Linked DNA regions of Homo sapiens: region 1 is linked to region 2. Evidence: fine-mapped expression QTL. A gene starts in region 2. The other region holds a variant in brackets. All regions are shown on one strand. Distances are between the middles of the regions. Region 1 overlaps DTNBP1 (dystrobrevin binding protein 1). Region 2 holds the start of DTNBP1 (dystrobrevin binding protein 1).

Region 1 (2,500 bases), 78 kb before region 2:
CTCAAGCGATCCTCCTGCCTCGGCCTTCCAAAGTGCTGGGATTACAGGTGTGAGCCACTGCTCCCACCCATATACTTATATTTATGCTATAGGCATACCTTTACAGGGAAAGCCAGATGAATATTTAAGTAGGAGTGAGAGTTTCTCAGCTCAGTTGGCCACTTGACTTCTCCCCTACTCTAGAAGTTTATAAAAACCATTAGGCAACTACCAATCTTCTGAGAAAAGTACAAACTCCATCCCAGTTGCCTTCAACAGTTTAATCAGCAGAGCTACAAGATCCCACAGGTTATTTTCCAGCACACACCTCTAAAAAGCTAAGACAAAATCATGAAGCTCCATATGAATTCAACAGACAAAGTCTCTTGTTAAGGCTGACAGCTAAAATTTTCAAAGATTTCTTTTTGTGGTTTTAAAATTTAGTTTTCTGAAAGGTATAATTTTTGCTGTCAAGTTATACCATGTTCCAGCAAAAAGGTAATGAAACAGAATAGCTGTATTTATTCATGATACCAAACATTTATGATAGACAACAAAACGTTGTCCTGATTCACTTCTAAAATACTCTATTGCTATAATTATTGATCATACAATGGTGGTATATGATCATTACAAGAAATCCCAGAAAAGTAACATTTAAGCATCACAACCCTAATCTTGATGCTCTATTTTTATGTAGTTTAATACCTAAACAAGCTGTTAAAGTGCCAATTCCCCTTCAATATAGAACATCGTCTTAGAGAATTTCAGGTCATGCCCAGTATGACAACTTAAGACATGGTATTAGAATAAACAATCAACTCCGTCTTAGAAATAAACTGTCTTAGAGCCAAAATTAACAAACAGGATATAAATATTTTGGTATTACAGGATATAGATACTAACTTTATTTAAACACTGTTACATAAATATAAGCCAGCTTTTAAAAAAACGAATATACACTTAACATATATTGACATATGAGAAAAAGATGAGCAGACACCTCAAAAATCTTGCCAGTATTTACCAACAAATCATGATTTTCAAGGAGCAATTTCTTAGATGAATGATCTAAAATATTAAAATTGAATATCAGATTATACCTATATGCAGATCTTTACTCTTAGAACCATTATTTAAGATAATGACTGAGAGAAGAGAAAATATGTCATTTATCATACATTCCCTATAAGTAAATACTTTAAAAATAAATGCCAAAGTTCTCACTGATAAGTTTTTTCCTGAACACTTAATAATGAATAAGAATGTGGTAAAACCTCTAGTTAGAATTTGATTCCATTAATGCTCCAATTTTATAATGAATTCCTGAGCTATCATTTTACTTCTGTTAATATGTCTATCTAAGCTTGAAAGGTTTTGCTATGTTATACATACACAGGCGTGAGAGAGGGACACAAAGAAGGAACTTTTCTCTTAAGTTTGATATACCTTATTCAAATTTGTAATATTAAAAAGAGAATAACCTTGA[T/C]AGATGAGAGACAACATGTATTTCTTTTTTTTTTTTTTTTTTTTTTTCATTTACAGAGAAGTGGCTTCTACCTGACAAGGCATGATGTATATAACATGCCATAACGTATGCCAACTAAAAGAAATAACAGGGAGTTTTAAAAAATGCAATCACTATTAAAAATTATTCCTCAGTTACCACCCCCATGGATAGTACAATAAATTACTCAACAAAAAATGCACAGTTAATTTTTCAGGTATTTTTTGCAGTAAGTTCCACAACTTCAATATCCTTATATATGTATTTATATATATATATAAATACCACACAGAGATGTCATTAAAACCACAGCCTCTGGCTAACAGATAAGGAATACACTGAAGTTATATGAAATTATGAAAAGAATATATATATATATATATATATATATATATATATATATATATATATATTCAACCTGTATGAAGCATTATGACATTTTTCAAAATCCATATTGAAAATCAGCCATTTTAGATAAATCCATATAGTACCATAGAATGAATTTTAACTTTATACTATCTTTGGATATGGCTCACATATTTAACTCTATTAACTGCCTCTTGGAAAATGAACATACTAGCAGCAAGGGATGCCGAATTAGTTTTATGGAGCTGTACCAGCCTCATTATTCAAATAGCTAGTATTATTTTCCTGGTATTTTATATTTATCTTTTAATACAAATATTGCTTCATAAAAAATGTCAGTTTGATTAATTTCACCTGATGCATGAAAAGACACATATTGTAAAAAAAAAAAAAAGTCCTACATTTCCATGCAACATTTTAAACTTATTTTAGGTATTAATTTAGTAATTATTACTTGTTGGTAATAGAAAGAACTAATAATGCTCTCATAAAAATGTACTACTTGTAGGTTCAAGTCAAGTTGAAATTTAATTTCTGCTTTTTAATAATATATCATCTGCATACCATGCAAATACAGCAATGTATCCAGGCATGGAAATAAACATTTCAAAGGAAAGCAGCAAAGGAAAAACAGAAAATAAAGTTCCA
Region 2 (2,500 bases):
GGGAGAAATTTAAAACAGTATGAGTGGAAATGTTCTCACATTCAGTGCATCCTCCAACAGGATTTGTAAGCTAAAGTTGAAAGATCCTTTTCAAAGACAGATCTTTTTCACTTTAAAGGAATGAAAAAATTAAAATTAAGCACTAAGTAACAATACTGACATGATGCTTGCTTCGTGTTTTACACATTAATTCATTAATCCTTGTAATAACCTTTTAAGTACCATCATTATCCCCATTTTACGGTAGCGGAAACAGTACATTGAGGCAAGGCAGCTGAGTAACTACGTTTGATTTAGTGGTCGAGCCAGGATGCCTAGGCAATCTGGCGCCAGAGTCTCGGCCTGTGGTTCCCAGGCGTTGGTGCCCACTGGAATCCCCTGGGGATCTTTAAAACGCCGTCTCCAGGCACTCTGGTCAACAGGTAGGGGGTGAGACCTGGGCATCAGAACTCTGAAAGGTTCCCAGGTGATTCTAAGCAAAGTTTGGGAACCGCTGGGTATTAAAAGCATTCCTAAAGTTCTGTCGCTTCTCCTGCTTAGGAGTTCCTTCGCCGAGGCGCTGAGCTCACGGCAAAGGTAGAGAAAGGACGCAACGGGGAGGGGCGGCCAGCCTTGCCAAGGGTTAGGCCGGCGAGCCGGGCGTGAAAGCCGAGACGCGGCGCGGAAGGCTGTGGCCGGAGGGTGCAGGCTGCTGCGCGGTGCGATCCGACTCGGGGAGGGTGGCTGGCCCAGCTCCAGGTGCGCACGAGCAGGTGTCTGCTGGGCCGAGGGGCGCAGGCCACTGTGCCGCGGGGGCGGAAGCGGTGAGGCGCGCTGGCTTCTCACATGACTTCCCTCCAGGGCCCAGCTGATGCTGCCGGGAAAGGACCGCAGGGTCCCACACCCCCCCCGGGCGCTCCGCTGCGCCGCCGAGCGCCTCCCGGTCCTGGGGGGTGCGCGTCACAGGCGGCCCGCAGGGACCTAAGTTACTTTGCGCCGCCCGACGCGAGGACGCCGGGAAGTTCGTTACTTTCCTCGGCGGGGCGGGGCGGGGAGGTGCGGGACAGGACGGACCCTGGACCGTGGCGCGGGGAAGGGAGCGAGGCAGGGGCATCCCAGGCGGCGGCCCGGCCCCCTCAGGTCCCTTTTCGTCGCCCACCGTATACCCACCCGGAGGTGAAATCCTGCTGCACGCTCAGCAGCCGCTCGCGAAGGGTCTCCAGCATTGCCGCCGCCGCCGGTCTCCTCTCCTCAGGCCTCGGGCTGCTGCTGCCTCTGTCGCCCCCTGGGTCCCACGCCGCCAACCCCGCGCTGTCACCGCGCGCCCCGCACTCCCACTACCGGCCCCGCCCCCGGTCTGGTCCTCGCCGCCGCGCCGCAACCCCAGCCCCTTCCGCGTTCCCGCCCCGCGCGCGCCAGGCTCGCGCAGCCGCAGTGGACTGCGCCGGGCTCGGGCTGCGGAAAAGGGGCGGGTCTTCCCCCGACCGAGAGGGCCAGTAGCTCCTCGGCTCATTCCTATCCCGCACCAGGCCTTCTCGTTTTTTTTTTTTTTTCTTTAAAATGGAAGCGGCATCGTGAAAGGATGATTTAACTCGAAGCCTCCTTTGAGGGAAGTGTTGGCTTTTACGTTTTGGAAGAGAATTGGATCTCTCTCTTCAATAGGCGATGTGCACAAATCATTGCATGGATTCTAGGTCCAGGATCTGACCCCACTGGCTTTCACCTTGAATGAGACAGTCAAATATTGAGCCTCGGTTTCTTCATTCATAAAATGGCAATAATAGTCGACTGTCTCGACATTCTTACTTTCCACTCTCTCTTTACCCCCCCAGGCTTTTGTGCCCTACACACCAAAGGTGATCGCCTTTCGCGAGTCACCAGTGACTTCCATGTTGCTGATGCCTTTTATTACTTCTCTGCCCTGATTTTTTCTCCACCTCTCAGTGGCTTTCAATGCAGTTTATCATCCCCATCCTTAAAACACTTTCTTCTCTTGCTAAGCACTCCATAGTTCCTCTCTCCCTTCCGCTCCACCCCTTCTCCTATTTTAATAGCCACTCCCAAGGCTACAGTCCAGCCTCCCCAGCTCTTCTCTCTTCTCCAGATGTGTTGTTCCATAGATGGATAGCATAGAGTCTATCCATTACCACGCTGTAAATTCTGTCAAGGAACCGATGACTCCCACAGCTCTATCTTCTGCCCTGTCCTTCCTCCCTCTCCGTCAATTCATACCAGTTGCTTACTCATGTAAGCATGTATACAACATGTATCCAAAAGGCATCTCAGACCAACATACACAAAATTGAAAATTTCATTCATTGCATGTTCACCTTTAATCTGCTCATCCTGTATTTTCCGTTTCAGTAAATGACACCACCATCCACCAATTTGCTCAAGGTAAGACACTTGAAATCACCTCTGGTTCCCCTCTTTTCCTCATTCCCCATATTAACCCATCAAATCCAATCAACTCTACTCCTGAAGTATTTCTGGAACCTCCTTCTCTTTCTATATCTTCACT

Evidence for each region.
Region 1: its variant is fine-mapped to the expression of DTNBP1 in whole blood (TOPMed, PIP 0.94).

Annotation. Positions count from the first base shown.
Region 1 is chr6:15,583,214-15,585,713 of GRCh38, forward strand. The region is part of intron 7 of DTNBP1 (dystrobrevin binding protein 1); the gene reads right to left. Among named protein-coding and RNA genes, the nearest start is that of DTNBP1-AS1, 38 kb to the left of the region's middle. RefSeq lists a silencer at 71-271. The variant T/C (reference allele first, on the strand shown) is at 1,469.
Region 2 is chr6:15,661,665-15,664,164 of GRCh38, forward strand. It overlaps DTNBP1 (dystrobrevin binding protein 1), which reads right to left and starts at 1,364. Exons shown (of 10, transcript NM_032122.5): 1 at 1,150-1,364. The coding sequence starts at 1,205. RefSeq lists an enhancer at 571-620 and a silencer at 851-1,360.